Linked DNA regions of Homo sapiens. The protein of the gene in region 2 purifies or fractionates together with the protein of the main gene of each other region. This does not show direct contact. Each region holds a gene or a part of one and is shown on either strand. Other genes may lie near its edges.

What was found.
Region 1: the proteins of SLC39A10 (region 2) and SCARF2 purify together in Homo sapiens (affinity purification with mass spectrometry; one large-scale study listed by BioGRID and IntAct). This does not show direct contact.
Region 3: the proteins of SLC39A10 (region 2) and GLB1L2 purify together in Homo sapiens (affinity purification with mass spectrometry; one large-scale study listed by BioGRID and IntAct). This does not show direct contact.
Region 4: the proteins of SLC39A10 (region 2) and ITFG1 purify together in Homo sapiens (affinity purification with mass spectrometry; one large-scale study listed by BioGRID and IntAct). This does not show direct contact.
Region 5: the proteins of SLC39A10 (region 2) and KCMF1 purify together in Homo sapiens (affinity purification with mass spectrometry; one large-scale study listed by BioGRID and IntAct). This does not show direct contact.
Region 6: the proteins of SLC39A10 (region 2) and WDR3 purify together in Homo sapiens (affinity purification with mass spectrometry; one large-scale study listed by BioGRID and IntAct). This does not show direct contact.
Region 7: the proteins of SLC39A10 (region 2) and UXS1 purify together in Homo sapiens (co-immunoprecipitation; 2 studies listed by BioGRID and IntAct, with this or other methods). This does not show direct contact.

What each region holds. Positions count from the first base shown.
Region 1 is NC_000022.11:20,435,026-20,439,049, forward strand, and holds the start of SCARF2 (scavenger receptor class F member 2 isoform 2 precursor), read right to left. Parts: upstream 2,801-4,024; 5' UTR 2,730-2,800; coding exon 2,557-2,729; intron 1-2,556. UniProt on the Homo sapiens protein: Probable adhesion protein, which mediates homophilic and heterophilic interactions. In contrast to SCARF1, it poorly mediates the binding and degradation of acetylated low density lipoprotein (Ac-LDL).
Region 2 is NC_000002.12:195,674,226-195,677,725, reverse strand, and holds part of SLC39A10 (zinc transporter ZIP10 precursor), read right to left. Parts: intron 2,265-3,500; exon of another isoform or gene 2,005-2,264; coding exon of another isoform or gene 1,992-2,004; intron 1-1,991. UniProt on the Homo sapiens protein: Zinc-influx transporter. When associated with SLC39A6, the heterodimer formed by SLC39A10 and SLC39A6 mediates cellular zinc uptake to trigger cells to undergo epithelial-to-mesenchymal transition (EMT).
Region 3 is NC_000011.10:134,330,609-134,334,787, reverse strand, and holds the start of GLB1L2 (beta-galactosidase-1-like protein 2 isoform b precursor), read right to left. Parts: upstream 2,801-4,179; 5' UTR 2,727-2,800; coding exon 2,641-2,726; intron 1-2,640.
Region 4 is NC_000016.10:47,454,564-47,458,063, reverse strand, and holds part of ITFG1 (T-cell immunomodulatory protein isoform 1 precursor), read left to right. Parts: intron 1-3,500. UniProt on the Homo sapiens protein: Modulator of T-cell function. Has a protective effect in graft versus host disease model.
Region 5 is NC_000002.12:85,023,161-85,026,660, reverse strand, and holds part of KCMF1 (E3 ubiquitin-protein ligase KCMF1), read right to left. Parts: intron 1-3,500. UniProt on the Homo sapiens protein: E3 ubiquitin-protein ligase which accepts ubiquitin from an E2 ubiquitin-conjugating enzyme and then transfers it to targeted substrates, promoting their degradation by the proteasome.
Region 6 is NC_000001.11:117,932,739-117,936,238, forward strand, and holds part of WDR3 (WD repeat-containing protein 3), read left to right. Parts: intron 1-549; 5' UTR 550-581; coding exon 582-752; intron 753-1,734; coding exon 1,735-1,944; intron 1,945-3,500. UniProt on the Homo sapiens protein: Part of the small subunit (SSU) processome, first precursor of the small eukaryotic ribosomal subunit.
Region 7 is NC_000002.12:106,093,302-106,096,801, forward strand, and holds the end of UXS1 (UDP-glucuronic acid decarboxylase 1), read right to left. Parts: coding exon 3,417-3,500; intron 857-3,416; coding exon 725-856; 3' UTR 10-724; downstream 1-9. UniProt on the Homo sapiens protein: Catalyzes the NAD-dependent decarboxylation of UDP-glucuronic acid to UDP-xylose. Necessary for the biosynthesis of the core tetrasaccharide in glycosaminoglycan biosynthesis.

The DNA.
Region 1 (4,024 bases), on a different chromosome or scaffold from region 2:
CTCTCCCCATCAATGCTAGACTTGCAAATCCAACTGCCCAATAGATGATGTCACCAGAAGGAGACCTCATGGGCCTCATGCCCAACCAGCCCAAACCTGAACTCTTGACCTCCTTGCACCCTGAGTCTTCCCTGCCTCAGATAACCCTGCCTGTCCTTTCAGGCTGGGAAGCTGAGACCTGGAGAAGCATCTCTGACTCTTCTTTCTTGTCTACACCAGATCCATTGAGAAAAAAGACGCTGAGCTCTAGCTTCTAAACGATATCTAAAATGGGATCACTTCCTCCTTCCCTATCCCAGCCTTGTGAGAGCCACCCTCCATCTCCCTGGCTTTTTGTAACTGGCCCCAGCTTCCACCCCCTGCCCCCCAGGGTGCGAAGTGTTTGCCACCTGGCAGCCAATCCTGGTCAGATCCCACCCTTTCTCTGTACAAAGCCCCCAGGGGGTCCCATGGCCCTCAGAAGAAAAGCCCAAGTCTTCTGAGCAGTGGCAGCCCACGGTGGCCTGCCCACCCTCACTCTCTGGCAGCTCCTCCGCCAGCCCCTCCTGGACTCTGCCCAGCCTCCTGGATCCTTCCTGTACTTCCACAGGCCCTCTGCCTTGGGAACCTTGCCCCAGACACCCACAGGGCCTCCGTGCTCTTCTGCAGGCCTGTGCTCACTCACCACCTTCTCAGCCGTTCTCCTCAGAACACCCTAAAGGAAACAGCACTCCCCAACCCAACACCTCCCAGCTCTTGCTAGATGTCTAGACACACTTGCTTTTCTGGACTGTGTCTCCTCTGCCACAGGGTCAGGGTCTCCACTGCAGCTTCCCTACACCAATACAGGCCTGGCACAGTGTAGGTGCATAGGATTTTACTGGCTTTGCACTCTCCTCTCCCCATCCTCCTGCCTCCCAGGAAAGGGAAGGGCTGATGGAAGCCTTGCAAGATGTGGGAGGACAACAAAGACATGACCCAGACCCCAGGTGGGCAGTGCCCAGAGTGGCTGTCCTTCCCATCGACCCTTGCCACTCATGACCACAGCGATCTCCACTTAGCCCCATGAGGGGGTTGTGATCACTATCCCATTTTACAGAGGTGGAGACAGGCCCAGAGAGGTCAAATGACTTGCCCAGGTCCACACAGCTGGGTAGGGTGGCACCAGGATGGGAACCCAAACCCAGGCTCGGTTCCTGGAGCAGGCGCCTCCTGGGAGGTCTGCAGACCAGGGGAGCGGGAGCAAAGGGCTCTCAGGCTCCGGACAGCTAGAGCCTGGCACCGGACCCCCATTCCTGGTCCCGGGCCTGTCTGGGAAAGAGGGCTGGAGTGAGTAGACAGAGACCACGGCGATCGCGCCCTCCCCCTCTCCAGGCACCGCCCCGCCCGCCGCCGCCGCTGCATTCCTGGGGCCGGGGAGGCCCGGGAGTCCGCGGCGGCGGCATCGATGCGAAGCAGATGGCGGGCCAGGCCGGCCCCCGCCCCGGAGGCGGGGCTCGCAGCGGGGAGGGGTCTGCGCGCCTCCGGACCAGAGTTCGGAAACCCCGCGCTGCCCCCTCGCAGCCCCTTGTCTCTGGCGCCGAGCCCCTGGACTCGGCTTGCCCCGGGTCCGTGGCTCAGGCGCCCCGACGCGACCCAGCTCGGAGCCCGGCGGCCGCCTCTGCGGCTGCCAGCCCGTGCGGCGTCTCCAATCCGCGCCAAGGCGCCCCCACACGCCCGCTCCTCACCCCTGCGTGGAGATGCCCTTGACCTTGTGGCCTTTGGCCAGCCCACCGGCTCCCCCGACCCCAGCTCCTAACTCCTGGCGTCCGGGGCTCACCTCTCTGCCCTCCGTGCAAACTCCCGGACTCGCCCCCCCACCGGCCGGGCCTGTCGCCTGCCTGTCCCACACTGGCTTCCCCAGCCGGCGCCCCACATTTGCGCGGCCCCTTCTTGCACCCAGAATCCCCACCTGGTTGTCGCCAGGGTTCCCACATCCTCCGGTCCCCTGTGCCTGTCATAGTCCTTCCGCCTCCCGCTTCTGGTCCACTTCGAGCGCCGGCTCCTCGACGCTCGCCTGGGTCACCACCCTCCCACCCGCGCCCGCTCTAAGACGCGAATCTGTCTTTCCAAGTCTGGCTTGCTCCAGGACCTCCCCGGCTAGCACCGCTCCTCCTCCCCTGACCTTCCTCCTCACTCCCACTCCCGGCTCCAGTCGGACTAGTGCGGGGCTTTAGCACATGCAGTTCCTTTGGCTTGAATGCCCTTCCCCAGCTTTTCCCCGTGGACTTCACAACTCGGTCAAGGGTCCCTTTTTCCAGGTCTTTCCTGATATCCCGGACAACGCGTGTCATCCCCTGGGTGCCCACGGCACTCCATCCTCCCCTCAGGTGACTTCTCGTCCAGGGTTCCCTGGGATGCACTGTCGTGGCCCATGGCCGAGGCTGGGCCTGGAACGGAGCCGCGCTGGCTAGGGAGCCGAAGGGGCCCACACTTGGCGTAGGAAGGTTCCGGTAGCCCCCTCCCAATGCCCGGCGCCGCCACACCACTGCCCAGAGCGTCCCTCTCGCCCCCTCCCCCAGCCAGGCCGGCTCCTACCCGGGAGCACGGCACACGTTGCGGCCGCGAGGGTTCAGTTCCTGAGGCGCCACGGTGTCCGGCAGCATCCAGAGCAGCAGCAGCAGCAGCAGCGACGGCAGCAGCGGTGACGGCGGCCCCCCGGCTCCCCGGCGCCGCGCCGGCCCGGCCCCCCGGGGCCCTGCGCCCTCCATGAGGCGCGGGGCAGGCGCGGGGCGGGCACGGGCGCGGGTGCGGCCGCAGCGAGAGCGGCCGGAAGCGGAGTGCGAGGCCGGGCGGGGGGCGGCAGGAGGGGCGCCGAGCCGGGCAGGAAATTCCACATCGGCTCCCTGATCCCGGGCCAGCCGCGGCCGGCCAGGCGGCAGCGCCCGCCCCGCGCTCCAGACCCCACCCTCCGGCCTAGCCACCGCCCCTCCGCGCAGCCCCCGCCCCCATTTGGCCGCTCGCAAACTTGGGGGCGAACTTGGAGGAGGCCCGCCGAGCGCTGGTGGAGGGAGGGTCCGCCCGAGGAATCCCCGGTTCCCGCGCCTTTCCCTCCGCTCCCTAGACATCTACCGAAGCAGCCGCCCCTGCGCGCCCACTGCGTAGGCCAGGCCCGGGACGGGAAGGCGGATCGGGGACACGGACGCGACTCCGCAAGCCCACCCCCGCTCCCAGCGCCTCGGAACCGGCCAAGGGAGTGGGGCCCGCAGACAGCCCAGGTCGAGGCCGAAAGCCAACTCCACAGCACCCCACCGCGAAGTCCTTGTAGTGCTGGGGTGTGCGGTCAGCTCCCCCTGCGCACTCCTGCGCACTCAGAGCTCGCAAGGGGCGGACCGAGCAGGATGCTTGAGGCCTGTGGTAGACTCGGTCCGGACCAGAGGCCTGGGGGAAGGGGTCTCCGTAGGGACGGATGGGAGAGATACAGAGGAAGTAGAATGGCCAGGCTGTGGACTGCGGTAGGAAGTAGAGGTAAAGACAGAAGGAGACCCCCGGGATGGAAACCCTGCAGTCCTAGTTGAGGAGTGAAGGGGGCTGGGGGAGCCTGGGCGGTGGATTCTGCTGGCTGTCGGATTTCCAGGAGAGGCTGGGGCTAGAGAGTGGGAACTCCTGCATCAGGTAAGGTGGGTAACAGCACAGAGCAGAAGGAAGGTGTGGGAAGGGAGCAAGACAGAGGGACAGGCCCTAGGGAGCCAGCGGGGAAGCTGGACTTGGACTGGGAGGCAGCAGGGTGCGGGTCCCCGGGGGGCAACTGGGGCAGACCGACTCTGGAAGTTGGGCAGGGAGCACAAATGTCCCGTGTGTAGCCAGGTCCTAGTGAGGATGTTTGTCTTTTGGGGACTTGAGAGCTGGCAGAAGGCCTAAGCAGGGAGCGGGCACCTCCGTTCTTTGGGGAGCAGGCCACATGCGGCCCACAGGCTCACTGAGGGAGGGCAGGCAGACTCTGTCCAGGTGTGGCCAGATAGCCCCGAAGGGTGGGGCTGGAGGAGGGGGCTTGGAGGAGGAGCCA
Region 2 (3,500 bases):
CAACAACAAAATGATAAATGAAACAGAAAAATCTATCACACAGGAATAAAAATGAAATTACAGCTTCATGCATAGATGAATTTCACAAATATTGGGAAAAAAATGACAAACACCAAAGAAAGCAGTATAATTCTTATATAAAGGTAAAAAGGAATAAAACTAAACTTTGTGGATTTTTTTTTGTTTGTTTTTGAGACAGGATGTCACTGTGACACCCAGGCTAGAGTACAGTGGCGCAATCATAGCTCACTGGAGCCTTAAACTTCCAGGCACAAGAGATCTTCCCACCTTAGCCTTCCAAGTAGCTGTGTGTGCCACCACGCTCAGTTTTAATTTTCTTCTTTTTGGGGTCTTGCTCTATTGTCCAGGCTGGTCTCAAACTCCTAGCCTCAAGCACTCCTCCCAACTCAAATTCCCAAAGTGCTAAGATTGCAGGTGTGAGCTACCATACCTGGCCATGATTACTTTTTGAAAGAGAGATAGAGGGTAATAATTGGGAGAAGACCAGAATGGAGGGGACTGCAAAGTGTAATGGTCTTTCCTGATATCAGTAGTAGTTATGTAAATATGTTTACTTTGTGATAATTCATGGCACTTATGCTCTGTGTACTTTCTGAACACAGTCTATTTCAATACAAAGTTTTATAAAAATCAAATTTTCTTCACTGAAAACCAATCACAAAATGTAATTATAAACAACATTGTATGGTTTCTAGAATTAATTAGAACAAGACATATAAAACCACTAAAAGGAAAAACTTATTAAGATGTTATTGAAGGACAGCAAAGAACTGAAAAACCTGGAGAAACACATCATCTACATGAATAGATGGGATATACTGCATAAGGTACATAAAATCTTCCCAAGTGTATATACAAATTTAACTCAATGCCAGTTAAAATCCTGGTAGCTGTTTAGTTTTGGTGAGACTTCATAAGCACATTCAAAAACTCATAAAAGCAAAAACCCAAGGACAATCAAGACAATTCAGAAGATTAGCAAGGTATTAAAGACTTCTTTTTATAAAATTATACTAACGAAAATAACATAGAACTAGCACAGGGGTAGATAGGCCAGTGGAGTGGAACAGAGTTCTGAAAGAGCATCAATAATATTGACTGTGAAAATGTTTCTTCCTCACACTACACACAAAAGTCAATTCCAAGAACATTAAAAACCTATATGTGAAAAGCAAAATTATCAACAAGTTCTAGAAGAAAATGTAAGAGAATGTCTTTATGTCTTTGGGATAGGGAAATATTTTTTAGGCAAGACACAAAGCACATATCATGATGAAAATTTTTGATTAACTAAATTCTTTAAAAAATACTCTATAATAAAGGACACTATAAAAAAAAAAAAAGCTTATAGGCCAGGCGCTGTGGCAGGCGCCTATAATCCCAGCTACTCAGGAGGCCGAGGCAGGAGAATTGCTTGAACTCGGGAGGTGGAGGTTGCAGTGAGCCAAGATTGTGCCACCACACTTCAGCCTGCCAGCCTGGGAGACACAGCAAGACTCTGTCTCGGTGGCGGCAGGGGAGGGGGAAGCTTATAGCAAGCCATATACTAGAAGATATTTGCAATGTGTATATATAAACAATGTATATAAAACATCAGTATCCAGAGTATATAAAGCACATATAGTAATAAAAAAACTCCACTACTACATAGACAACTATGAAAAGAACATAAAACAGGTTGGTAAAACAGCAACATGATGACTAATAATCTAGGCAATTCAAATCTAGATAAGGCTCTAAGACAGTAACAGGCAAAAATTAGTATCTCACAATACTAGATGTTAAGTAAAGGTCTAATATAAAGAAACAAACTACCTTATGCGTCTGGTGGAAGTATATATTGGTACAGCCATTTTGGAAAGCAACTTGACATTTACTACAGCCAAATATGAACACACTCTACAGCCCCCAAGTTCCATTTTAATTACCCTTGCACTTAGGCACGCAAAGACACATTCAAGAATCCTTACTGGGGCCAGGCATGGTGGCTCACGCCTGTAATCCCAGCACTTTGGGAGGCCGAGGTGGGTGGATCATGAGGTCAGGAGATCGAGTACATCCTGGCTAACACGGTGAAACTCCATCTCTACTGAAGATTCAAAAAAATTAGCCAGGCATGGTGACGGGCGCCTGTAGTACGAGCTACTCGGGAGGCTGAGGAGAATGGCATGAACCCGGGAAGCGCAGCTTGCAGTGAGCTGAGATCACGCCACTGCACTCCAGCCTGGGCGACAGAGCGAGACTATGTCTCAAAAAAAGAGAATCCTTATTACAATATTGTAAATGTTTTTCTAATGTGAACTATTGCAATAACAGAACACTCAACCAAAGTGGGTAAAACAGAGGAAAACTTTCACATAAAAAGAAGTCAGGAGAAATGGGTGATTCTAGGACAGTACCAAAAATCCAAGCACGCTCAAATTTACCCTCAGAGTCCCAAGATAACCTTGCATAATCATATTCAAAACTGGAAGATTTATCTTTTTTAAAATACAATTTTTATTTTTTTTCCTCCTCAGAAATCTTGTTTGGATGGAAGGTTCATCTTCATGTCTCTCTTTTTATCCAGGGAGAAAAATATTTCCCTCAAGCCTCTCTTTACGTATCTTTGATCAGTCAGGTCTCTACCACATGCCCATGCTAAAGCCAATCACTGGTTTACAGTAGTGTATAGTAATGTCCCAGGCCTTCACATTCACTCACTGCCCACTCACTGACTCACTCACAGCTGCTTCCAGTCCTGCAAGCTCCATTCATATTAGTGCCCAACACTGGTGTACCATTTTTAAAATCTTTTATACTGAATTTTTACTGTACCTTTTCTATGTTTAAACATACAAATATTTACTATTGTATCACAACTGCCTACAGTATTCAGTATATCAACAGGTTTGTAGCCTAGAAGCAACTGGCTATACTCTATAGGTAGGTGTATAGCAGGCTACACCATCTAGGTTTGTCTAAGTATACTCTATGATGTTCACACAATGACAAAATCACCTAAGCCTGCACCTCAGAACATACTCAGCATTAAGCAATGCATATGACTGTATGTGGGAGAGGCAATACTCACAGAACATGGGGGAATAAGAGGCCTCAAGAAAAAAGGAGGTAAATAAAGAAAAGCAGGCCGGGTGCAGTGGTTCACACCTATAATCCCAGTACTTTGGGAGGCCGAGGCGGGTGGATCACCTGAGGTCAGGAGTTCAAGACCAGCCTGACCAACATGGTGAAACCCCATCTCTACTAAAACACAAAAATTAGCCAGGCCTGGTGGCGGGTGCCTGTAATCTCAGCTACTCGGGAAGGTGAGGCAGGAGAATCGCTTGGACTCAGGAGGCGGAGGTTGCAGTGAGCCGAGATCATGCCATTGCACTCCAGCCTGGGCAACGAGAACAAAACTCTGTCTCAAAAATAAAATAAAATAAGGAAAAGTGGTCAGCTGTGTAACCATTATGTTGCCTGCTACAACCTAAATG
Region 3 (4,179 bases), on a different chromosome or scaffold from region 2:
AAAGAAGCCAGACCAAAAAGGAAAACATGCTTTAAGATTACAATTCTATAAAACACTAGAAAATGCAAACCAATATATCGTGTCGGAAAGCAACAGATCAGTGGTTGCTTGGGGCTGGGGAGCAGGGAGGAGTAGGAGGGAGGGATGACAGAGAGGTACATGGAAACTTTGGGGGCTGGTGGCTGTTTTCACAATCTTAACTGTGGTGATAGATTCACAGCTGGATTTAGATATGTGTCAAAGCTTATCAAATTGTACATATTAATTAAACTCCAATAAAGGTAATTTTTAAGAAAGACCACTGTTTACGCTTAAAAAAAATAAAAATAAAAATTCTAAGACTGAAATCCTCCCCAAAAGTCAACCTGGTCATCCTAGTCTTTTGATATGATGTAACCCACCAGCTATGACTGACCGTGAACCAGCCCAAGGAAAAGTTGATGAAAAAAAAGAAAAGCTATAGCCAAACATCCCCCAGCCCATGCCAGCCACTGTCCAAATACCTGCCTTCTGCTACAGGAAAGGGGCTGCTCCTGACAGCTCGGCTCCACAAAGAGTGAACTTGGTGGCCAGTTTCCACGTGACCTATATTCCACTGGCCACCTCAACACTGCCCAGTAACAGCTGGGAGAGGCCCCACCTCCCACTCAGTTAATGACCCAGTCAGAGCTGGGGCAAGACAGGAAGAGGGAAAGACAAAGAGGATGTTCTCCTCCTGCCTCCAGAGATATTACAGCAACTCATACTCACTGGTGTCCAGCCCAAGTCAGACAGGAGGAACTGGCAGAATGTACCCATGAGGGTGAAAAAATCAAAAAGATGCCAAAAAGACACGTATTCCACAGGATCTGAAGACACGGCCCTGAACTTGGTTCAGAGCTCCTTGAGCTTCTGTTCTACCTGCTAGAAGGATGGAGAGGCAAGAAAAACATCCTTCCCAGGCAGGCCAAACTGTTTTCACAGAATTTGGTTGCAGCTCTTTATTCTCTGTTGCCATTCCACCTGCTCCAATGGCCCAAGACTGACTCCTAGTGCGGTCACCCCACCTAGGTGGGGACACAGTTACCTCACCTCAAAGAAGCTCAGGCGTCTTCCCAGCTAGGTCAGCTCCCTGCCACCTCACCTCTGTCCCACCAAACAATAACAAACCCTCAGCCTCCTTCGCATACCTTTTCCTGGGGACTTTTTGGGTGTACCACTCAGCCCATCTCAAGCCCACAGTGCTGCCCCAAATAGTGACCTGCCTGGGTCCCCTGCACGGACTCCTGTATCCCTGACCAACAACAGGCCTGCAGCCGCTAGCCTTTCTCTTGGCAGCTTGCACGCCTTGCTACCCTGCTGTATGCAGGAGGATCTGCTGCCGCTGCTCTGAGTAATTCTTCTGGGGTTTGCGTAAGCCTTGCACAGGGAGGAAAGCTGAGCATCCCACAGGAGCCAGGGCCAATCTTCAGAGAGGAATGGCTTAGAGATCTTAGGCAGGACAGAAAACATCTTGGGAACAACCGGAGAAGTTAAATGCCTGAAGTTTTCTGGGCCCCAGAATGAGAAGAAAATCCGTCCTTCTCCCAAACAATATCATGACGTCCCCACTATCTCAGAAACAAGAATCCAGTCTTGACAAGGTGTAAACATAGAGTTTGTCAGTGTGTTCTTCTGGCCACAAAGGACTTCCAGATATTTATCTCCATCAAAAACTTCCCTGTCTCCCAGGGGAAGTGCAGAGAAACTAAGAACTTAGTTTCTCTAAGTAAAAAAGAAGCAAATGACAAAGCCGAGCGGCGTAGGGCCTGCCACCACTTCCAACCGTTCAGTTCATTCGATACTGCCGGTCGGCTTCCCACTGGAGGTTTTGAATATGGAAAGTGCTGACCTGAAAGATAGGGTCAGGGCTGTAGAATCCTTAAAATAAGCACAGTTTAGAAAAATGCTGGGCTAGGGCACCCAGAAAACTTTTTCACAGGCTGTGGGTAAATCACAGTATCACTGAAGCCACTCCTTTGCCATAAACAACATTTGGAAAAGGGGGAGAGGAAAGGGTGAGCTGGTAACAGGTGAATGGTGGGAAAGTGGAGAGAGACGACCTATCAGTCCTACTGTGCAAATAAATCATGGCCCGGGATCTTGGAGGCCCACGGACACTGTTCTTACGACCCTGCCAGGCCAGCTGGCTAGACCATACCTGCCAGGCTGAAGCGCCGGCCTCTGCGGAATAAGGCGCCTCCCAGAGGCTTGGGAGGAAAAGGGGGGCCTGGGGGAAGGGCAGAGGGAGCTCTCCGCGGAGCAGTGGGGACGGGGCCGCGATGGGGTGCGTCTGAGAGGGCTCTGACGGCTGGAGGGCTGCGGGCGTCCACGGGGGGCAGAGCCCGGCGTCACAGGCGCGGCGGGGTGGGCGGCTCGGGGCACAGACGCCGGCTCCCGAGGGCACGCCGGGTGTCGCCCAGAGGCCTGGATCGCGCGGCAGGAGTAGAGTGCCTGCAGCCGCAGGGGAACTCGGGGGTATTGGGGAGCTCCCAGAAAGAAGCAGCTGGGGCTGCTCCCCCCGGGAACTCGGGATTCGCGGGTCGCGGGAGGAGAGAACCCGAGGTGCGGAGGGCTGGGGAATGTGGGGTCCGGCAGGTGCTGCGCGAAGCTCTCTCTCACCTGCGGAGCACCAGGAAGCCCAAGACGACCAGCAGCAGGAGTCCCAGCGTGCGGGCCGGCCTCCGCCGGAGGCTCCACGTGGTCATCGCGTGTTCTCTAAGCGCGGGGACCCGGGTTCCCACTCCAGTCCGCACTCAGCCGCGCGCGGGAGCCTCGCCGCGGGGGGCGGAGCCGCGCACTGGTCGCCTGGGCAACCGGCCCGCCGGCGCTCATTGGCTGGGGCTCGCGGCTCCGCGCCTGCAGCCCTAGGCCTCGCGCAAGCGGGGGCGGGGCTGGCCGGGGCCGGGGCGGGGCCTCTGTCGGGGGGGGGGCGGGGCGGGGCTGGTGGGCGGGGACGAGGTCTCGGTAGGAGAGGGGGCTGGCGGGGGCGGGGCTGGCGGGGCGGGGCCCCGGCCGGGGGCGGGGCGGGGACAAGGTCTCGGTAGGGGACGGGTCTGGCCGGGGCGGGTCCCCAGTGTCGTGGAGCGGTGCAGAGTCCGCCGTCTTTCTGCTCGCGAGGCGCAGGCGGGTGCGGGAATGCTGCGTACCTGTCAAACGCCGAGGTAAAGTCGCCCCTCGCAGCGCTACATCAGGAAGAACGTACAAAAGGCGTCCGCAAAGCAGGGGCAACCAACAGAATCTTTTAAAACAATTCAGATTCTGAAGCAAACAACTTTTTCAATAACAAATCATCCTGTGAAAAGCCAGGATTTTGAAGAATTGTATCTGGACACATTTCAGTGTGGTTCATGTCTGAGGAGGGGGGGTTCCAAATATTTTCTGTCTTTGGTTTCTGCGAGTCTTACTCTGGCCTTGACTCCAAGGGCTTCCAATTTTTTATTTTAAAAAGGTCCATATAAAACTCTCACATTTTAGGAAAGGAAGAATATCATTCTTATTCTGAAACAGAATGTATGTCCCAAAGAACATGATGTAGTATTTCGGTGCAACTTACACTGTAGCAATCACAAACCCAACTCCTCCCGGGAACAAAATTCAGATTTTACTGAAAGAAACTCGAGGAAGGGCAACGTTTTCCAGAGCATCCGGGTTTGTCGAATGTCTCCCTTGCCGCATGCTTTGAATTCATTTCCTAAACGGGGGCATAGTTTTGAACTTGTAAAGCCGACAGGAACCAAATGAAATTGCAGATCTTGGAACAAAGACACAGACTTGGGTATGAAGTGTCCTTTGTCTAGCGTTAAGCACATATTTAGTCAAGGAGCAAAAGTTAAATCAAAGAGAGGCAAAAACAAACGAACAAACAAGAGGAAAAAAACCCTGGCAGAACTGGGGAGGATAAGCTGGGCTTGGAGCAATCCGGGTCTGACTTAAGCACCGCAAACATTCCCAGAGGCGCGCAGAGGGAGGCCCACTCCCGTGGACGCGCTCCAAGCCCGCTCCTTTTCTCCATTGGGTAAGGCTATGATTGCTTGATGGCTATGAAGTCTGTGATGGAAACATGTTGGTTTAATTGGAATATACCAGCTAGCCCCGAAGCGTGTGGAGAAATTGTCAAAGGCTAGCCCCTTTGCCTGCAGGGGACCATCCGAAAGACAT
Region 4 (3,500 bases), on a different chromosome or scaffold from region 2:
AAGACTACTTAGGAAGCTGTATTTAAAAAGTCCCTGTGTGGGCTGATTAGTTCTCAGACTCTACAGTATTTTGAGTAAACTCAAACTCATGTTAAAAAGAAAAATGGCCTTGAACTAGAACTTTGAGGGGAAAGTTATAAATGGATAAACAGGAACTTATTTCCCTTGAGAAGTGTTTTTGGGTAGTGAATGTCAGCATGCTTGGAGTGGGGAAGAAACTGAAGTTGAGTGTATATGAGAAGTGAACTAACTGCATAGAGGTGATTTTTTTTTTATTAGAAATTAAGGAAATTTAAAAGATGTAAATGGCATGTGTTCTGATAAGTTAAAACAAATATCCCAATTAATTTTTTTATTAATGCAATGCACTTTCAAAATTTAGAAACTCTTGTTTGTGTTATAATTTAAAATATTTTTCAAAGTAAAAATAACTATTCTTCACCCTTATTCTCCCCCACACCCCTGTTTCTCTCTCAGATGCAACCACTTTTAAAACCTGTAGCTGATTCTTCTAGTGTTTATTACCATATTTTAAAATAAAATTTTACACTAATTTTCTTGAATTATCATTTTTAAATATTCAATTCTTGTTTTTTAACTAACATAATTTATCTACATTGTCCCAGTGTAATTAAATCATAATTTTTTGTTAAATTAGTAATCATTGTTTACCTTTTAACCATGTGGTGTCTATGTACTTCAGAACCAAGTAATGTACAGTATTTCTTTTCTTTTTCTTTTTTTTTTTTTCTTGAGACAGAGTCTCACTCTGTTGCCCAGGCTGGAGTGCCTTGGCATCATCTCAGCTCACTGCAACCTTTGCCTCCCGGGTTCAAGCTATTCTCCCACCTCAGTCTCCCAAGTAGCTGGGATTACAGGTGCCTGCCACCATGCCTAGCTAATTTTTTGTATTTTTAGTAGAGATGGGATTTCACCATGTTGGCCAGGCTGGTCTCGAGCTCCCGACCTCAGGTGATCCACCTGCCTCGGCCTCCCAAAGTGCTGGGACAGTATTTCATTTTTTGTGCAGCTTGCCCTACTGGAATAAATGATTGCTTTTTAAAAAATAGATTGCATAGTTTTCTATGTACATACCCTTAATTTCTTTGCAGATATTCCATCATATCTGCCATATACCTATCCTGCATTTTTGTTTTTCCCATTGGATCCTCTACATTCCTATCCAGTCTGGATTCATTCTCCAGGCCTTTTGTAGACTTACTATGTGGGGAATTTCCCCATGTAAAAAAAGAAATTTCCTCATTTACTTCACGGGGGTGTGTCTTTCCAGAAATTCCTGAGAAAGGATGCCTGATAAGTCCTGTCACATCCAAAAAGTTTTTCTACCCACTTTTTTTTTTTTTTTTTTTTAGAGACAGAGTCTCACTCTGTTTCCCAGGCTGGAGTGCAGTGGCACAAGCTCAGCTCACTGGAACCTCCACCTCCCTGGTTCTAGCAATTCTCCTGCCTCAGCCTCCTGAGTAGCTGGGACTACAGGTGCACAACGCCACGCCCAGCGAATTTTGTAGTATTTTAGTAGAGACAGGGTTTCACCGTGTTGCCCGGGCTGGTGTCAAAACTCCTGAGCTCAGGCAATCCACCTGCCTTGGCCTCCCAAAGTGCTAGGATTGTAGGCATGAGCCACCGCGCCCGGCATCTACCCACTCTTAAAAGTTTGGTTAGCTTATTGTGTTCTAGCTTCATGGGTTGCAGTTTTAAAATTCAACCCTCTTCTTTCTCCTAATCTTTTAAATGTAAATTGTTTTAATTTTGGAAGCTATTGGAGTCTCTTCTTTTTCTATTTTGTTCTGATTTCATGATGATGTGCCTTGGTATAGATTTGTTTTTCTTTTTTGATAAAGACAGGGTCTTTCTCTATCACCCAGGTGAAAAAGGAGTGCAGTCACACAGTCATAGCTCACTGTAGGCACCTAATCCTGGGCTCAAGCTGTCCTCCCACCTTCGCCTCCCAAAGTGCTGCAATTACAGGAATGATTATTCTTTACTTATTATGCTAGGCATTATGTGGGCCCTTTCAAGCTAGAGGCCTCTATCCTTGGGAGCTTTTTGAAATACTCTTACATTATTAAATATTTCTTTGAAAAATTTTTTTGTCTCTTTTAGGAGTTTCTATCAGTTGATTAGTCTGCCTGGGTTCATCCTTTATTCCTTTATCTTATCTGTTTCTTATTTTTATCATTTAGTTTTGTTTTATTTTCCTTTGCAGGAGGTTTTCTCAACTTTCTCTTTTAAATTCTAAGTCCTTTTTTTTTTTTTTTTTTTTTTGGTGGGGGATGGAGTCTTGCTCTGTTGCCCAGGCTAGATAGAGTGCAATGGTCCAATCTTGGCTCACTGCAATCTCCACCTCCTGGGTTCAAGCGATTCTCCTGCCTCAACCTCCCAAGTAGCTGGGATTAGAGATGCACGCCACCACGCCTGGCTACTTTTTGTATTTTTAATAGTGACAGGGTTTTGCAATGTTGGCCAGGCTGGTCTCAAATTCCTGACCTCAAGTGATCCACCCACCTCCACCTCCACCTCCCAAAGTGCTGGGATTACAGGCGTGAACCACCGCGCCCAGCCAGGTGTCACATTTTTAATTTCCGAGGTTTTTCTTTTGTTTTCTTACTGATGTTGTCTTTTAGCATACTGTTGTTGGTTTGTTTTTTTTTTTATAGACAGACTTTTTTCTCTTAAGTGTAATTTTGAAGTTTTCTTTTGTTGCATTAGTTCTGTTTTCTTCAGGTTCCTTATTGCTATTTGTTTTAGCTCTCTTTAATAGTCAAAGTTTTCTTCAGAAGGCAGGTGTCTACTCACATTTTCAAGTAAGGTGCAAAAGAAATAATTGGAAATGTATTGCCTAGTGGGACTAGTCTACTATCTTTTGCCCTGCATGTATGTTCTTGACAGACTAACATTCTAGAAATAGGGTAGAGCTGTGGGCAAGGGTTAAATTGTTCCTTTTGTAGACTTTTGGTTAACTCCTGTGTCTAGCTTAAGGCCAAAACCTTACCCATTACTGTAATTTAAATCCTTAATTCCTGAGACTTTCCAGAAATACACCACTTGGTTCTTACCTTGCTGAGTGAGAGGGAGAAAGAACTACCACTGATGCATTAAGAAAGTAATTATCTATAGTCTAATTGGAAATTTGCTGTCTTGCTATTTCATCTGAGTAGAATTAAGTATAAAATGAATTAAAGGCCTAATTTTTGCTTGGGTCGCTCAGATAATAAGACTGCAGGACGTTAAGCTTTCAAGATTCATATAAATAATTTTAGAATTATTTTGTTAATAAAAATATATCAATACCTATGAAAAGGAAAAAATAAAAATATACATATAAAGTTAGATATATATGTTTGGATGCTATATTGATTGCCAAGTTTCGTTAAAAAAAATTCCATTCTTAATTTACTAGCTTTCAGAAATAAAATGATTCTTTTAATTTTTACTGTAAATTTTGAATTTATGTTAAAATCCAAACTAAATATTTTATA
Region 5 (3,500 bases), about 110 Mb from region 2:
AAAAATTAGCTGGGCATTGTGGCCTGTGCCTGTAGCCTTAGCTACTTGGAAGGTTGAGGTGGGAGGAATGCTTGAGCCCAGGAGCTCGAAGCTGCAGTGACCATGATCAAACTACTGCACTCCAGCTTGGGAACAGAACAAGACCCTGTCTGGAAAAAATAAAAATAATAATAATAATAATAATAATAATAATAATAATAAAGGAAAGAAAGAAGCTTGAACAGGGCTGGGTGCCATAGCTCACACCTGTAATTCCAACACTTTGGGAGGCTAAGACAAGAGGGCTGCTTGAGGCCAGGAGTTCAAGACCAGCCAAGGCAACATAGAGAGATCTCATTTGTATTTGTTTAAAAAAAAAAAAGTTAAAATATGCCAGGCGCAGTGGCTCACGCCTGTAATCTCAGCACTTTGGGAGACTGAGGTGGGCGGATCACCTGAGGTCAGGAGTTCAAGACCACCCTGACCAACCTGGTGAAACCCCATCTCTACTAAACATACAAAAATTAGCCGGGCGTGGTGGTGGGCGCCTGTAATCTCAGCTACTTGGGAGGCTGAAGCAGAAGAATGGCTTGAACTCAGGAGACGGAGGTTGCAGTGAGCCGAGATCATGCCACTGCACTCCAGCCTAGGCGACAGAGTGAGACTCTGTCTTTAAAAAATATTTTTAAAAAAGTTAAAATTTAAAATTCTGTAGGTGGGTTTCATAGTTTTATTCACATGTGATCTGCTTGTTTATGCTGAAAACCCAAATACAGCTAAGTTATTAGAAGCAGTAAGCAAAGCTGTTAGATAGAGACCTCCTAAATAAAGTACTGATTGTATTTCTTCACTGCAAAACAGACAGAAAAACATATTATTAAAAATATGTCATTTATTACAAAAAAATTAGTGAGGCATGGTGGTGTGTGCCTGTAATCTCAGCTACTCGGGTGGCTGAGGGAAGAGAATCACTTGAACCCAGGAGGCAGAGGTTGCAGTAAGCTGAGGTTGCGCCACTGCACTCCAGCCTGGGTGACAGAGCGGGACTCCTATCTCAAAAAACCAAAAAAATGTCATTTGTGATTCCATCGAGATGTGCCAAATTCAAAGAGAAGGAAAGTAGAACAGTGGTTGCCAGAAGCTTGAGGAAAGGGAGAACGGGGAGTTACGGTTTAGTGGGTAGAGAGTTTTCAAGTTTGGGATAATGGAAGAATTCTGGAGATGGACAGTGGTGATGGTTCCAAGAATGTGAATATACTTAATGCTACTGAACTGTACACCTAAAAGGGGTTAAAATAAATTTTATGCTATGTATATTTTACTGCAATAAAAAAATAAGCCATTTGCAACAGCATTTTAAAAAAGTGCCTATGAATAAATCTAACCAAAGATAGGCAGCCCTTTATGAAGCAAATTAGTAAAAATGTATTCAAAGACACTAAAGGACTTTAAAAAATATAAATACCAACTTCATGGACTGGAAGGTTCATAATAAAATGTCAACAGATTTGTGGATTCAATACAATTAATAACCAAAATTTAAAAAGAATTTTTTTGTGGGGCATGGTAAGCTGACTCAAATGTTGATGCAAGTTACAAAAAGGGCCAAGGAGAGTCAAGATGCTCCCAAGAAAAATGAGATAGAGGGACTTGTTTTATATATCAAGAGCTAAACTAATAAATAATAAGTAACACCATAACAAATAATAAACCTATAATAACTACAGTAAGATGGAATGGCACCAGGGTAGAGACAAACTGGCCCATGGAATAGAACGGAAAGACCAGAAACAGATGTTGAAATCTGTTTTACAACAGCAAGGTCACTAAAGAGCACTGAGAAAAAAAGGGAATGGACAATAAATGGTGCTGAACAGGTGATTATCTGCATGTGGGGAAAACAGAATTGGATCTCTCCCCATATCCTATACACACAAAAAATCAATTCCACATGGTTTAAAGACGGATTCAAAAGAACAATGAAAAATATCTCTAGAAGACAATATAGAATATTTTTATGAGTCTAAAGTAGAAAACAATTTCTTAAATCTTTCTCTTTCTCACACACACACGCGCACACACACACACACACACACACTCTCTCTCTCTCTCTCTCTCTCTCTCTCTCACTCTCCAAATCAAAAAGTAAGAGATAAGTCCAACTACGTTAAGACTTTTTCTTCATCTTTTGTTTTTGTTTTATTCTTTTGAGATAGAGTCTCACTCTGTCGCCGGGGCTGGAGTGCAATGGTGAGATCTTGGCTCACTGCAACCTCCGCCTCCTGGGTTCAAGCAATTCTCCTGCCTCAGCCTCCCAAGGAGTTGGGATCATAGGCGCCTGGCACCATGCCCAGCTAATTTTTGTATTTTTAGTAGAGACGGGGTTTCACCACGTTGGCCAGGCTGGTCTCGAACTCCGGGTGATCTGCCCGCCTGGGCCTCCCAAAGTGCTGGAATTACAACAGGCGTGAGCCACCACGCTCGGCCTTTTTCTTCGTCTTTTCACAGCCTACATTGATTGAAAATATAAGGTTCAGAAACTGGCGATATGTACAACATACATGACAGACAAAAGTTTGGTATTCAGAATGCATTATGAACTCTTACATATCAGTAAGTAAATGATGAATGCTTAGTAGAAAAATGGAGAAACCTGTCAAAGGGCACTCAAAGAACAACAAACATAAATGGCCAGTAAACATATGAAAAGATGCTCAATCTCATTAGTCATCAAAGAAGTGCATGATTAACATCCGTGAGCTAGCATTTTACATTTACCAAACCGGTAAGAAACTACAAGTTTCATGATATCAAGTGTTAGTGAAGATAAAGGGCAGCAGAAGTGCTTATACCCTGCTGGTAGGAGTGTAAATCAGCACAACCACTTTGAAAAATTTGTTCATATTTTTAGTCAAGTTAAACACATATACCTCCTATGATACCGTAATTTCACTCTTAAATAAATTCCCGGGGAGGGAATCTTTTGTCTGTGTGCACCTAGAGAATGTGGAAGAATGTTGACGGCAGTTTTTGTAACTGAATTTTAAAAAGGCTACTCAGGGGCTGGGCGCGGTGGCTCACGCCTGTAATCCCAGCACTTTGGGAGACCGAGGCGGGCGGATCACAAGGTCAGTAGATCGACACCATCCTGGCTAACACGGTGAAACCCCGTCTCTACTAAAAATACAAAAAAAAATTAGCCAGGCGTGGTGGCGGGCGCCTGTAGTCCCAGCTACTCAGGAAGCTGAGGCAGGAGAATGGCGTGAACCCAGGAGGCGGAGCTTGCAGTGAGCTGAGATCGCGCCACTGCACTCCAGCCTGGGCGAGAAAGTGCGAGACTCCGTCTCAAAAAAAAAAAAAAAAAGGCTATTCAGATTCAAAGGCTCAACAGTTCAATATGCACAGAATGAATTGGAAAAAGAATGAATCACAGCAACGGTAAGAACATCTGCCTCAGATGAGTGAAAGGAAATTTCAAAGAATACATACAGTATTGGCCGGGCGCGGTGGCTCACGCCTGT
Region 6 (3,500 bases), on a different chromosome or scaffold from region 2:
GGTGGGCATGACAACGTGACTAATTTGGAACTTGAGGAATGAGGGATTATATTGAGTCAACACTGAATAAAAAATGATGTCCAGGTATTTTAGGTCAATGATTCATTTAGAGTAAATAAAGATTAAGAAGTCACAAGTTACATGCTTTTAATGACATGATCAACAGTTGGTGTTGTTCTGGCGCAGTGGCTAACACCTGTAATCCCAGCACTTTGGGAGGCCGTGGCGGATGGATCACTTGAGGTGAGGCTTTCGAGACGAGCCTGGCCAATATGGTGAAACCCCATCTCTACTAAAAAAAAAAAAAAAAAAAAAATTAGCCGGGTATGGTGGCACATGCCTGTAGTCCCAGCTACTCGGGAGGCTGAGGCAGGAGAATCGCTTGAACCTAGGAGGTGGAGTCAGCTGTGAGCCAGGATCCCACCACTGCACTCCAGCCTGGGCAACAGAGTGAGACTCTGTCTCAAAAACAAAAAAACAGTTGGTGTTTACTAACCTAGTAGAACCAAGGCACCCAAGGAGCTGAGTTTTCTTTGTTTATATGCACAGATTGCTTCACCTGTGGTATCAGACATCACAACATGGGGCTCACCAAGCAGTACCTACGCTATGTTGCTAGTGCGGTCTTTGGCGTTATCGGCAGCCAAAAAGGTAATATTGTCTTTGTGACACTTCGTGGTGAGAAAGGACGTTATGTGGCAGTACCAGCTTGTGAACACGTTTTCATCTGGGACTTAAGGAAAGGAGAGAAGGTGAGCCTAAAATGACCAGTTTGATACTGATTTATTGGTATTTGAGGATGGAGAGGTAGTAGAAGTGGGGGGGCTCTGATTTATTTATCATGAGTTTTTTTGTGTCTGTGCCCTTAGAAGAAAAATCTTTTTCCTTTAGGTCTAGCTAGCCAAGCATCAAGTTCCTTTGTGTTCTTCGCCACTGAATTCTGAAAACCACAATGAAATAGGAGCTTATTTCTTAGATGTCTATTTGTTGGAATATTTACAGGTCATTATTTGCAGTAATTATTTATTCCTGATGTATTTTTTCTCTACCAATTCTATTTTTCAAGCTCGACTTATGCTTATAGCTGGTTATAAAATATTAGGCATGTAAAAGGAAGGTTAGTCTATTTTGGCAGAATCTTTTTCTAATATGGATAATGCCCAAGTGTTGTTAAAGTAGACTTTGATACTTTGTGTGACTGAATTCCCTAAGCCTACCACTTTTGCCAAACCAAATATAGGCATTTTGATATTGTCCATTCATTTTGTGATTCCCAAGAGGTTAGTACTTTGATTCTTGTTGCCACCAAGAGTCCTTTGTGGTTAAAACCACTGCAGTACTCTGTTGCCACACAGATTATTTTCTTATAAAATGGGTCTCAGTTAAAGGAATTTATAAACCTTTATTGAAAATCACGTAGTGTTGTTCTAGGGTTAAGAATTAGATTAAAGGGATTAAATTTATTTTATTGCCTAGGGAGTTTTTATATGTATTACAACAACGTAGGGCTTTGGAGAAAATAATTAAGCCTTTTCTTAAATGTTTCATTGCCTAGTACAAATACTAATTTCTATATTAAAAAACTTGAAATGGATTGTGGAGTTTCATTTTTATTCATAAGAGTAATTTGGAATTATTGGTGCTCTTAATTTTACTGTGCCTGAGTATTCCTATGCTTTTCCCTTGAGTTCATGCTTAACTCTTCTACATTGTTTTTAATTTTTATGATTTCAGATTCTTATCCTTCAGGGGCTTAAACAAGAAGTTACTTGCTTATGCCCCTCCCCAGATGGGCTACACTTAGCTGTTGGGTATGAGGATGGGTCGATCCGAATCTTCAGTCTCCTGAGTGGGGAAGGAAATGTGACCTTCAATGGTCACAAAGCAGCTATCACTACCTTGAAGTATGATCAGCTAGGAGGCAGACTGGCATCTGGGTCCAAGGTGAGCCTTTGAATCAGCCCAGGCTTTGATCTATTAAAGGAATGTAAGGCTTATGCTGAAGCAAGTTGTTGACAAAAATTGTCAGGTAAAACAATGGGCTGTCAATATACAAAGTAGTATAATGATAGAGTGAAGAGGATGGGTGTGAATTGGGTGGTTCATTTTGTTTCCTTTTGTTCATTTTGTCATATTTTCTGATAAAAGCCTCTTAAGTGTAGGAATAAGATGAAGAGAGCCATGATAACTCTTATTGTGGAAGTGCTACGCAAAACAGTAAAATAAGGAAAGAAAACAAAGACTGGAAAAGAAGAGACAAAATAATTATTTGCCATTGACTTCTGTAAAGTCAGTAGAATTTCCTGTATCTCACAAGTCATGAGTTAGAAAATATAAAAGATTCCATTCACAACAGATTAAGTAACAGACATAAAAATACCATGAAACTTTACTGAAGAATGGAATAGAAGACTTTTATAGAGATATAATCCATGTTCTTGAATGGGAAGACAAGGTATTGAAAAGATGGTAGTGTTTTCTAATTGATTTATATAGCTAAAGCTATGTTTAGACATATGTTTATATAGATACAGATATATTTAAATAGATATCTTAAAGGTTTTAGTTGTTACTTAGAACTTGACCTAATATGGAAAAGCAAAGGAATTGGAAACACTAAAATTTGGGAAGAAAAGAATAATAAAACAGGGGTTTTAGATATTAAAATGTCATATAAACCCATAATTTAAGAAGTATCATATTGATACTTCAATGCAAGTACCAATGCAAAATAGATTATTGCAACCAAATGGAAATCTCAGAAACACATCCATGATTACATTCCTAATTAGTATATTTTAAAGACGACATTTTAATAAGTAGAAAAATGATAGATTACTTATAAAACAGTCCTTAGACAATTGGCTATTTGAGCGAAATTTTTAAATTAAAGCTTTACCTCATGCTATATACCAAAATGAAACAAAGATTAAAGACTTAACTATTAAAAAATAGCATTTTAAAGTAAACTAGAAAATATGTAAGTAAATATCCGATAGCAAGGTAGAAAAGGACTTTATTAGCAAAGAAATAAATTAAAAAAGGAAACTGTTGGTAGATTGGAATACTTGAAACATTTGTACATTAAAAACAAGTCAGAGGACACTGAAAAAGTTAAAATATTTAATATTTTCAATATAAAAAGAAAGGATTAGTATCATTCATCTATTAATAACTTACAGTCAAATAAGAGATGACACTCTAAGAATGATAGACAAAAGAAAGTCATGAATTGGCAATTCAAAAGAGATACTTTATGGCCAATAATCACCATAAAGCATGTAAAATATTTCTCATTTGTATTCATAAAAAATGTAAATTAAAATAAATATTAAGACTGAACATTTTTTACTTATGATATTTGTAGTAGTTTTTGAGAAAACTAATAATAGAGTTAAATGAATGGGGAACAGGCCTTGTCATACATATCCCTGCTGGTTCTATAGATTTACCCAACCTGGAGATCATTTTGATAGTATGAATCCAAAACTTTAAAAATA
Region 7 (3,500 bases), about 90 Mb from region 2:
GTCCATGACTGGTGAGTTTCAATAATTTATTAAAATAGCATATTTAACCATGGTTAACCAAGAATATGTTAACTTTGTGCCCCCCAACCTGCCCCCGCCCCAGATACGCAGCAAAACACAGTAGTGATTTCAAATATCCTTGATCATGACCAACAGGAATATTTCAAAGTCAAGTTTGCAACTCAAAAGTAGACCTTGGAAAAACTCTGAATTAAAAGAGAAACATAAAGCTCTCACACAGAATTCTTTTATCTGCCCTAAAATCAATGCCGGCGCACCACCACCTGACAATACTGCTAGGATTTTTCTTTATGCATAGTATAACGACTCATTTATTAAGTACCCACTTTCATAAATAAAATCGGCATTTTTTGTCCCGCTTAATGTTCCTTTTCAGCTTCACAAAGAAACCAGTAAATAAAACTGTCAACGACAGTCACAACATATGCTCTCACAGCAAGATAAAAAAACTTGAAAATACGCAGAGATGCATCTACGCTATTTTACATAAAAAGAGAGATTCAAAAAGTGCAAGGCAAAATCTGCAGTTTTTTGAGGGGAGCTTTTAGGCACATCCATTTCATTAAAGCAAGCTTCAGAATGAAATTCCAGTTTGTTCTTCATGACACCTGTTAAAGTCTTTCTTTAAACGACAACAAAAAAAAGCCAAAAATACATCCCATCAAGTGTACAATGGTAGTCTTGTGTCCTAAAAGTGAGGAGTTCAGCTGTGGCGAGTCCGTCCTTTCTTTATTCTGGCAGGCTTTGGTTTGGGGATGTACTGATTATTTGCCTGGTACTCGAGTTCTTTACGGAAGTAGTGAATTGCTTTGTTTAAACCTTCCTCCAGCGGGACCTGTTTAAAGGGAAAGCAAGAAAGGGAGACAAGGTCACATTGACAGAAGGGCATCGCAGGAAGGAAGTGCCACCTTGCAGGAAGGAAGTGCCACCTTGCAGCCAGTCAGGCCTCCTTCAGAGGAACACTCACAGAACCATGCTTTGGTTGTGACAGCATCCAGCATCACGGCCCACCGAGAGAAGCCAGAAGTCCTTCAGGGCCGCTTTCAGAATGTACTGTGGAGCTGACAAGTGTCACTCTTACTGACGTAAAGTGAGCTCCACCTCACAAAAGACCCCGACTACCTCTTGCTGGTATAATGTCTACTCCAGTTTGAATCGGCTGGCAAGATTGTTTTTCAGATAATGCCCATGTGCCCCATTCTTTCAGAAGAAATCCACCTTGGAGTGGCGGGAAGATGCTTTGGGAAGGTGATCTGCATCTGATCAACACGCCTGATTCTCCCACGTGACATCAACCCTTTGCACTGCCTAGCGGATCATGGCCCACTTGCACCCCCACCATACTAAGAGGCTGAGTCTGAGAGGGGACCCACGGCAGCCCACACCACAGAAAGCAACCTTCATCTGAAGCTGCTTTGCAGCCAACAGGAAACCAGCCAGATCAACTGCTGATTAACAGCAGAAAGAGAAAAGGTGAAGGGAGGCACTGCTAAGGGGTGCTGGGGCACCACTGGGGGAGAAGGTCTGTCAGCTTGACTGCAGCGATGGTTTCACAGGTGTCAAAATAGATGAAAACTTATCAAATTGTATCTTCTAAATATGGGCAGTGTGCAGTTTGCCAATTATATCTCAACAAGCTGTTAAACACACACACTTGGGACAATTAAGATGGATAATGCCTGTAAGTTTCTTTGGATCATATCCCTCAAAAATTTATTATAAATTAAAACTACTACTAGAAGAGAAACCAGTGGTAGATGGCTCACATTCCAAGAATGTTAGAATATTATAGGTCTAAATTCCAGAAAGATAAAGATACTGAGCATACACACACCTCACATAAAAAGCAATAGTTAATACATAGTGAATGTATATTTAAATCTTCAAAAAATATTTTGTTTAAAAATATAGGCTCTCCTTACAAAGGGACCAATGGCCCCTTACAAAGCTTCAAAAAAACAAGAAACCTAGGCTGCTATAACCTGTTTTGCACAGCTTGGGATTATTCGATTTTGTGAAGTCTGGGTGTAATTGTATTTTTATTTCACTCAACAAATTTCTGCAGTTTTTAGCAGATTACGTAGACTTGTACATGACAGAATGAAATAAGGATCAGGCTGGAACTCTCATGTCCCTTTGAAGTTCAATATTCTAGGATTCTACTCACTCAGCTCTGACTATGCACATTTTAAAAAGGTAAACTGAGCTCTCAACTGCGTCCCTGACTCTCTGACTGCGCCACAACCCAAGGGCCATGCCAAGATGCTCCTACATTTGTTGAGCACCCAGTGTGTGTCAGGTCTGACAGGTGCCGGGCTCCTGCTGGACACAGGGCTACACTACACGCCTCTGCCCGAGGGGAGCCCGAATTTCAGTGGGGCACATGAGGGTGGGCAAAGAGGGAACAGCCAGGCAGAGGTGACAGTAAATGAGGTGGGCTTGCTTCTATAGATGGGGCCAACCCAGCCAACCTCCCTACACAGGTGGTCTCTGAAGGACACAGGCAGCCCTGAGGACGAGCGTTCTCTGGCGGGGAGGAGCCTGCAGTCACCCAAGGCAGGAAGGGCACAGCAGGCGGCAGAGCAGAAGCAGGCGGGGTTCAGGCTCAGCCCCAGGGAGGCAGCAGCCGCCCCACCCTGCCCCCTTCAGTAGACACACTGAAGACAACAGGAAGGCATGCAGTTCCCCTTCCTCCACACCCTTCAGTCTCGCACGCTTCCAACCAGGGGCTCCACTGCGGGGCTGATGGGGACCACTTGCCCCTGACCTGGCCCCGCACACTCAATAGGCAGGCAACTGGGGCTACGCAGGGCTCTGAGCGTGTGCTGCCAGCGCCCTTGGCACAGCGTTCACAGTCAGGGGTGTGTGTGTGTGTGTGTGTGTATGTATGTGGGAGAGGGAGTGTATGTGTGAATGTGAGTGTGGATCAGTGAGTGTGCGCATGTGAGTGAATGTGAGAATGTGTATGATAGTGTGAATGTATATGTATGTGTGAAAATGAGTGTGTGTGAGTATACTTGTATTAAGTGTGTTTGTATGACAGTGTATATATGACAGTGTGAGTGTGTGGGAGACAGTGTGAGTATATGTGTGTACAAGTGTTTGTATGGCAGTGTATGTGTATGAGAGAATGTAAGAATGTGTGTGTGCATGAGAGATTTTACGAAAACAGAGCCCAGAGCAGGGGCTTCCAGCCGCTTCCCAGGTAACATTCTCTGAGACTCCTGATACAGGAGAGGCTGTTTACCACTTGGAGAAAACCCTCTATCTGCCTGGATGCCGAGCCCACCTTGCTCCTCCGGGGGCTGTCTGACAAGGGTCAGTGCCTACAGGACAGCAGACACAGGACACGGGAGGCCCCTCCCCACAAGGCAGCATTAACTCCCTGCACTTACCACGGGCTCCCACCCCAGCATCAGCTTTGCTTTTTTGATGTCTGGTTTTCTTTTCTGTGGGTCATCCTGGGCTTCGGAGAGAAA